Homo sapiens: one gene and its partner. The protein of the gene in region 1 interacts with the protein of each later gene in a pairwise test. Each region holds a gene or a part of one and is shown in the gene's direction. Other genes may lie near its edges.

Region 1 (5,263 bases):
TTTAGCAGCTCCAGGAGACAAACAGGGGTCACCTCCTGCCTGAGCTGTGGGAAGCGGGAGAGGGCCGCGGTGGGGTGGAAGATGCTGGAGAGGCACCAGGGGCTCCTAGGATGGCCCTCCTGACCCCAGGCTGTGGGGTCCTGAGGCTCAGAGACCTCATCCTGAGCCCATGAGTGACACTCGCTGGAGGGGAGGGGGTTCCCACTGCCCCAGACTCCCTACCTTCGGGTCCCCTGGGCCCATGGGAACCAGAGCCCTCCCTTCTTGGAATCCTAAACACTCGAACCCCAGAGGAGCAGGCATAAAGGGGCCTTGTGATGAGCGGACCAAACGGTCTTCAAACTGTGTTCCCTGGAACCCTGGGGGGTAGGGGTACTCTTCCCTCCCTTAATTTGAGCACCCCCTTTTAGTCCATATAGGAGTTCCACTAGAATACTTTTTTTTTTTTTTTTTTTGAGACAGAGTTTTGCTCTTGTTACTCAGGCTGGAGTGCGATGGCACGATCTTGGCTCACCACAACCTCTGCCTCCCGGGTTCAAGCGATTCTCCTGAGTAGCTGGGATTACAGGCATGCGCCACCACGGCCAGCCAATTTTGTATTTTTAGTAGAGATGGGGTTTCTCCATGTTGGTCAGGCTGGTCTCGAACTCCCAACCTCAGGTGATCCTCCCAAAGTGCTGGGATTACAGGTGTGAGCCACCGTGCCCGGCCTTAGAATACTTTACTTACAGACAAAATTCCATACCTTTAACAATGTTTGAAAGCCTCCGGGTTAGTCTATCCGGACCCATTGGGATTCTACATGGCAGAAGATTAAGTCTGTCTGGACAGTGTCTCATGCCTGTAATCTCAACATTTCAGGAGGCCAAGGTAGGAGGATCACTTGAGCTCACGAGTTCAAGACCAGCCTGGGCAACACAGTGAGACCTTGTTTCTACTAAAAATTTAAAAAGTAGTGGGTGCACACCTGTAGTCCCAGCTACTAGGGAGGCTGAGATGGGAGGGTCGCTGGAACCCAGGAGGTGGAAGCTGCAGGGACTGTGCCACTGCACTCATCCTGGGCAATAGAGCAAGGCCCTGTCTCTCAAAAAAAAAAAAAGAAAAGAAAAGAAAAGTCTGGGTTGAGCCCTGGCACCTCCCTTCCTACCTTCACTGATTCTCTGAACCTTCCTGTCCTCGCCTGTAAAGTAGATTGTATGAGGACTCCATGAGGTCATCCACTTCAAGTCCTTGGCATAGGATAATTACTCAAAAGGTGATGACAATGGCGCAGGGAGGGATGGTGACTTGCCTGGAGATGCACAGCACCGTCTCTCCCATACTCGGTCATTCACACCATCATTGATTCACCAGGCACCCACTCCGTGTCCAGCAGGACTCTGGGGACCCCAAATGGACACTACCATGGAAGCTGACCTGGGTGCCACTGGCCACAGGCCCCGCACAGAGCTTGATGATGAGGACTCCTACCCCCAAGGTGGCTGGGACACGGTCTTCCTGGTGGCCCTGCTGCTCCTTGGGCTGCCAGCCAATGGGTTGATGGCGTGGCTGGCCGGCTCCCAGGCCCGGCATGGAGCTGGCACGCGTCTGGCGCTGCTCCTGCTCAGCCTGGCCCTCTCTGACTTCTTGTTCCTGGCAGCAGCGGCCTTCCAGATCCTAGAGATCCGGCATGGGGGACACTGGCCGCTGGGGACAGCTGCCTGCCGCTTCTACTACTTCCTATGGGGCGTGTCCTACTCCTCCGGCCTCTTCCTGCTGGCCGCCCTCAGCCTCGACCGCTGCCTGCTGGCGCTGTGCCCACACTGGTACCCTGGGCACCGCCCAGTCCGCCTGCCCCTCTGGGTCTGCGCCGGTGTCTGGGTGCTGGCCACACTCTTCAGCGTGCCCTGGCTGGTCTTCCCCGAGGCTGCCGTCTGGTGGTACGACCTGGTCATCTGCCTGGACTTCTGGGACAGCGAGGAGCTGTCGCTGAGGATGCTGGAGGTCCTGGGGGGCTTCCTGCCTTTCCTCCTGCTGCTCGTCTGCCACGTGCTCACCCAGGCCACAGCCTGTCGCACCTGCCACCGCCAACAGCAGCCCGCAGCCTGCCGGGGCTTCGCCCGTGTGGCCAGGACCATTCTGTCAGCCTATGTGGTCCTGAGGCTGCCCTACCAGCTGGCCCAGCTGCTCTACCTGGCCTTCCTGTGGGACGTCTACTCTGGCTACCTGCTCTGGGAGGCCCTGGTCTACTCCGACTACCTGATCCTACTCAACAGCTGCCTCAGCCCCTTCCTCTGCCTCATGGCCAGTGCCGACCTCCGGACCCTGCTGCGCTCCGTGCTCTCGTCCTTCGCGGCAGCTCTCTGCGAGGAGCGGCCGGGCAGCTTCACGCCCACTGAGCCACAGACCCAGCTAGATTCTGAGGGTCCAACTCTGCCAGAGCCGATGGCAGAGGCCCAGTCACAGATGGATCCTGTGGCCCAGCCTCAGGTGAACCCCACACTCCAGCCACGATCGGATCCCACAGCTCAGCCACAGCTGAACCCTACGGCCCAGCCACAGTCGGATCCCACAGCCCAGCCACAGCTGAACCTCATGGCCCAGCCACAGTCAGATTCTGTGGCCCAGCCACAGGCAGACACTAACGTCCAGACCCCTGCACCTGCTGCCAGTTCTGTGCCCAGTCCCTGTGATGAAGCTTCCCCAACCCCATCCTCGCATCCTACCCCAGGGGCCCTTGAGGACCCAGCCACACCTCCTGCCTCTGAAGGAGAAAGCCCCAGCAGCACCCCGCCAGAGGCGGCCCCGGGCGCAGGCCCCACGTGAGGGTCCAGGAACACGCAGGCCCACCAGAGCAGTGAAAGAGCCCAGGGCAGACAGAGGAACCAGCCAGTCAGACAGGTGGGGAGCCGCCGACAGCTTTGTCCTTAAAAACCCTGCTGAGTCCGTCAGGCCTGGAAGGAGGACTTGAGGGAGGGGAAACAATCCAGCCAGAAGTCTCAGGCAGTTCCATGTCAGCGACCCCTGCTCCCGGCCATCAGCCTTTTCTGTGGTTGCTCCCAACACACACACAGTCGCCCGACAGCCCCCAAACCGCAGCTAATGGCATCTTGCGGGGTACTGTCCCTCAACACCCCAGACCCCGCTGACTATTCTTCCCTGGGCCTCAGTCCTGCTGGAGGAAGACAACAGGGGGCACTTTCCCCGGGCTTGACCTGACCTCCCTTTGGTCCTTCCCTCCCTCTCCTCCTCCGGGCCTGGACACAAGGACGTGAAACAAAAAAGTCCCTGAAGAGAAGGGGGCCTCCCAGGAGCCACCAGCCCCAAGCAGGAGCCTAAGGCCCTGGTGAACCACAAGCTGGCCTGGCATGGCCAAGCCTGGTCCACTAGTCCCCTTCCCCCAACAGTCATTGAGGCTGGGGCAGGGCCTCCCTCAGCAAGGCGCCAGAAGAGGCAAGAGCTGCCTAGCCTGGATTCAAATCCAGCTCTGCCATGTCCCAGCTGAGCGACTCTGGAGGAGCAACTTCACCTTCCGAGCTCCCGTGTCATCAGCTGTTGAGAGGATGCAATAAGAAAGTGTGTAAGGCATTACAAGAGCCTGGCGCACGCAGGGGCCTGGTGAACTAGCCTTTCTTCTCCTTCATCCACATACAGGATGTCCCTTTAGAGGCTGGGGATGGATAGAGGAGGCAGTGGGGAGAGCCACCACCTGGCCCAGGCATCTGGGATCTTGTGACCTGTCTGGGCCGTAGACACCCAGGTGGCCTAAGACCAGGAGGCCGCCTCTGTGCCTTGGGGGCCTGCAGGGGACTTCAAAGTCTGATTCTATTTAAAAGTTCAATTAGCATCCACCTGCTCCCCACCTCCCGTGGAGGGCTGCACAAGATTCTTTGTGGGGGCTGCAGGTACAGAGGGCCCCGATCCTGCCTGAATAACAGCCTCCCTCTGTCTGAGCCCAAGTGCACAGATAGGAAGTTGTCCAAGCACACAGAGCTCAGGGCACCAGTGGGTCTAGGAAGGGCAAAGGCAAAGACGGCCGGGCGCGGTGGCTCACGCCTGTAATCCCAGCACTTTGGGAGGCCGAGGCGGGCGGATCACAAGGTCAAAAGATCAAGACCATCCTGGCCAACATGGTGAAACCCCGTCTCTATTAAAAGTACAAAAATTAGCTGGGCGTAGCGGCGCACACCTGTAATCCCAGCTACTCGGGAGGCTGAGGCAGGAGAATTGCTTGAACCCGGGAGGCAGAGGTTGCAGTGAGCCGGGATTGTACCACTGCACTCCAGCCTGGCGACAGAGCAAGACTCCATCTCAAAAAAAAAAAAAAAAATTAGAAAGGGCAAAGGCTCCCAGAGGTCACACAGCTTCTCTAGGGCAGAACCAGCTCTTCCCTCTCAAGCTGCTGATGCTGCAGAAAAAACTAGAAGTGCTGAAGGTCTATCTTCCAACCCCCACTCCACTTCCCTTTTCCTACCCATCGTCCTCTCCTGGCACCCACCCCACCTGCGTTCTCCTTACCCCCAGTGTTCCAGTCATGCCCCCTTATCCCATTAGCTCAGTATCGTGACCTTCAGCAACTGAGACGCCCTTTCCGGCAGGTGTAAATGACAATGATGTCAGATGTGCAACCCTTCCCAGAGACACCTGCATTTTCCAAATGCAGCAGGCTGTGCAGGCAGCCTAGAGTGATACAGTCAGGTCTGGGTTCTGGTTCCTAACTTCCTTCCTCTCAGCCTGTTTTCTCCTCTGTAAAATGGAGTGATCATGTTCCCCTTGCAGGCTTGGCAGTTCTGATCATTGACTGAGCCCAGGGATGGGAAGTGCTGTGGGCGGTGGTGGTGGTGATACCAGAAGCATAGTCGTAGTGATGGAATTGCGGGCACTGAGGCCCATGGGAGAGAGATTTCTGGCCAGGCATGCATTTATTGAATTCATTCATCCAGTATTTCTTGGGCACTCGCTAGATGCCTTTCTGGCCAGCCTTCCATTCTGGAGCCACTTGGGTGAGGTTAAGGGTTTGCCCTCTTGGCTGGGCGCAGTGGCTTACGCCTGTAATCCCAGCACTTTGGGACCCTGAGGCAGGCAGATCACAAGGTCAGGAGATCGAGACCATCCTGGCTAACATGGTGAAACCCTGTCTCTACTAAAAATACAAAAAAAAAAAAAATTAGCTGGGCGTGGTGGTGGGCACCTGTAGTTCCAGCTACTCGGGAGGCTGAGGCAGGAGAATGGCGTGAACCTGGGAGGCGGAGCTTGCAGTGAGCCGAGATCGCACCACTGCACT
Region 2 (3,914 bases), 3.7 Mb from region 1:
AACCAGGATTTCTCATTTTGAGGAATGCCTGTGTTTTCCTGTATTTTTTGAGGAAAAATGTATATGTTACTCTGAGTCTTAAGATGTGACTGTCTCTCATATACACTTGCCATGTCCCATGATTCTGTCTTACAGCTGAACTGCTCATTTTCAGTGTCCCGATTGTCTATGAGAAGTACAAGGTAAGCATTTATCTGTTCCAAATCAAATGTGCCAGTTGATGTATGACTAGTTGTAGTTCATTTCTGAGACATTGAATGTTCAGAGCAGTCTTTTTATAACTATTTCTACAATCTAATTTTGTGAGTCAAGTGCCTATAAGAAACTGGTGGCAGTAGTTTCCTCCAAGGAGAGAAACTGGATATTTAGGAGAGAGATGACTAGGAAAGAGAAACTTCCTTTTTATACTTGTGTGCCTTTCGAGTTTTTAATCATGTAGATGTATTTTCTATGCAAAAGTAATAAGTTGAAAAAATGCTTAGGCCAGGGGTGGTGGCTTGTGCCTGTAATCCCAGCACTTTGGGATGCTGAAGCGGGAGAATCCCTTGAGCCCAGGAGCTCAAGACCAGCCTGGGCAACCTGGCAAAACCTTGTCTCTAAAAAAAAATAGCCGGATGCAGTGGCCTGCACCTGTAGTCTAAGATAGGAGAATCTACTTGAGCCTGGGAGACAGAGGTTGCAGTGAGCCGAGATCATGTCATTGCACTCCAGCCTGGGTGATGGGAGTGAAACCCTCTCTCAAAAAGGCCAGGAGCAGTGGCTCATGCCTATAATCCTAACACTTTGGGGGGCCGAGGCAGGCAGATCACTTGAGGTCAGGAGTTCGAGACCAGCCTGGCCAACATGGTAAAACTTCATCTCTACTAAAAATATAAAAATTAGCCCAGTGTGGGGCCAGGCACGGTGGCTCACGCCTGTAATCCCAGCACTTTGGGAGGCCGAGGCGGGCAGATCACGAGGTCAGGAGATCGAGACCATCCTGGCTAACACGGTGAAACCCCATCTCTACTAAAAATACAAAAAATTAGTCGGGTGTGGTGGCAGGCGCCTGTGGTCCCAGTTGCTCAGGAGGCTGAGGCAGGAGAATTGCTTGAACCTGGGAGGTGGAGGTTGCAGTGAGCCGAGATTGCACCACTGCACTCCAACCTGGATGACAGAGCAAGACTCCATCTCAAAAAAAAAAAAAAAAAAACGCTTAGATGGGAGATTGAGACCACGGTGAAACCCCGTCTCTACTAAAAATACAAAAAATTAGCCAGGCATGGTGGCGGGCGCCTGTAGTCCCAGCTACTCAGAGAGGCTGAGGCAGGAGAATGGCATGAACCTGGGAGGTGGAGCTTGCAGTGAGCCGAGATCGCGCCACTGCATTCCAGCCTGGGCGACAGGGAGACTCTGTCTCAAAAAAAAAAAAAAAAAAATGCTTAGATGAATAAAAGCCGGGTGTCTAAAAGGAAACTTTAAACTCTAGGTTATTCAGGTAATCCATCAGTGTGATGAGGTGTTTGCATTGTTGGATGATGTGTACCAAGTATACTAGATGCCATGAGATTATTCTTTATGGATTAAGTCATCCATCAAGAGACTTTTTGGCTTTTTGGTATTAAGTGAATTAGTGTTACACAAGAGCCATAACATATTTATGATGACAGAAAATAGATTAGACACACAGTTTCTAGTCATTGGAAACTGTTATATACTCCAGTGTCTCTAAAGAAAATACTTACCAAGTAAGACTTAACCTCTGCAAAAGATGAGTGATTTTTTCACTTTAACAAAGTGTGGGGTGTTTATGGTGTAATTTGGATTCTAAAACCAGAGGTTTTAAAAATACTTTTAAGGCTAGGTGTGGTGGCTCATGTCTGTAATCCCAGCACTTTGGGAGGCGGAGGCAGGTGGATTGCCTGAGGATGGGAGTTCAAGACCAGCCTGACCAACATGAAGAAACCCTGTCTCTGTCTCTATTAAAAATACAAAATTAGCCAGGCATGGTGGCGCATGCCTGTAATCCCAGCTACTTAGGAGGCTGAGGCAGGAGAATTGCTTAAACCCGGGAGGTGGAGGTTTCGGTGAGCCGAGATCACACCATTGCACTCCAGCCTGGACAACAAGAACAAAATTCCATCTCAAAAAAAAAAAAAAAAAAAAAAAAAAGGCTGGGCACAGTGGCTCATGCCTGTAATCCCAGCACTTTGGGAGGCCGAGGTGGGTGGATCACGAGGTCAGGAGGTCGAGACCATCCTGGCTAACACGGTGAAACCCCGTCTCTACTAAAAATATAAAAAATTAGCCAGGCGTGGTGGCGGGCGCCCGTAGTCCCAGCTACTCGGGAGGCTGAGGCAGGAGAATGGCGTGAACCCGGGAGGTGGAGCTTGCAGTGAGCCAAGATAGCGCCACTGCACTCCACCCTGGGCGAGAGCGAGGCTCCGTCTCAAAAAAAAAAAAAACTTTTAAAAACTGGGTGTTTTCATTTTCTACACTGGTCAGTCGTGTTTAAAAAATGGTTAAACTAGACAAAAGAGCCGTGCCTTCAGGAAAATTGGTGATCTGTATGTTACCACAACTGAATTTATTTTCCTTCCTTAAAGACCCAGATTGATCACTATGTTGGCATCGCCCGAGATCAGACCAAGTCAATTGTTGAAAAGTAAGTACATTTAGAGACCACATCATCATGAGGTATGCTTCCTTCCCCCCAATTATCTTTAGTCCCTTGTACAAAATGCAGATGCCAAGGAAAGTAATTTTCATTTTGATAAAAACCTTAGTTAATAGTTTCATTTTACTAAAAATTATTATAGCTGCTTCTATAAAAAGGAAAAAAAATCCTTTATATCTTTTTCTGGCCCTGCCTTCTGGACCTTTGTAGGCCAGGCATTTTGACTCACATCTGTAATGCCAGTGCTTTGGGAGGCCGAGACAGGAGGATTGCTTGATCCCAGGAGTTCAAGACCAGCCTGGGCAACATAGCTAGGCCTTGTCTCTACTAAGAATAAAAAATTAGCTGTGCATGGTAACACGTGCCTTTAGTCCCAGCTACTGGAGAGGCTGAGACAAGAGGATCAATGGGAAAAAAAAGATCAGTGGAATTTTTTGGAGACAGGGTCTTGCTTTGTCACCCAGGCTGAAGTGCAGTCTCGACCTCCTGGGCTCAGGTGATCCTCCCACCTCAGCTTCTCCAGTAGCAAGGACCATAGGCTACTCTGCCTTTTTGAACTGGCTTTTAAATGTTCTTCATTACAGGCTGGGCACGGTGGCTCACACCTGTAATCCCAACACTTTGGGAGGCCAAGGCCGGTGGATCACGAGGTCAGGAGTTCGAGACCAGCCTGGCCAACATAGTGAAACCCCATCTCTACTAAAAATACAAAAATTAGCCAGGTGTGGTGGCATGCAACTTTAGTCCCAGCTACTCAGGAGGCTGAGGAGGGAGAATTGCTTGAACCTGGGAGGCGAGGTTGCAGTGAGCAGAGACCATGCCATTGCACTCCAGCCTGGGTGACAGTGAGACTCCGTCTCAAAAAAAAACCAAAAAGTTATTGGTTGCTTCCCCACCTTCATTTATTTTCACATGTATTCATTTAAGCCAAACGTATCCCTCTCAGAAACAAAAGTTCTAGTAAATAAGTAACTTAAGGATCAAAGTTGTCTTTTCTAAGATTGCCAAATCTCTGTTCCCATTTTTTTAAACCAATTAATAAATCAGGAAATAAAATATTGACAAACATCTTTATGACTCCCTATATCAAAGAGTTGTTTTCTTCTTTTTACTTTTTTTCCCCATACCTAGAGGACAGTATTTTTTTTCTTTTTTCTTTTTTCTTTCTTTTTTGTTTTGCTTTCTAGAGACAGGGTCTCACTCTGTCACCCAGGTTGAAGTGCAGTGGCACAAGCTGAAAGCTCACTGCAGCCTTGAC

Evidence for each region.
Region 2: the proteins of GPR152 (region 1) and RTN3 interact in binary tests that used the Homo sapiens proteins (3 or more experiments, as listed by UniProt).

Annotation. Positions count from the first base shown.
Region 1 is NC_000011.10:67,448,854-67,454,116, reverse strand, and holds GPR152 (probable G-protein coupled receptor 152), read left to right. Parts: upstream 1-1,387; 5' UTR 1,388-1,392; coding exon 1,393-2,805; 3' UTR 2,806-2,816; downstream 2,817-5,263. UniProt on the Homo sapiens protein: Orphan receptor.
Region 2 is NC_000011.10:63,753,527-63,757,440, forward strand, and holds part of RTN3 (reticulon-3), read left to right. Parts: intron 1-135; coding exon 136-182; intron 183-2,585; coding exon 2,586-2,644; intron 2,645-3,914. UniProt on the Homo sapiens protein: May be involved in membrane trafficking in the early secretory pathway. Inhibits BACE1 activity and amyloid precursor protein processing. May induce caspase-8 cascade and apoptosis.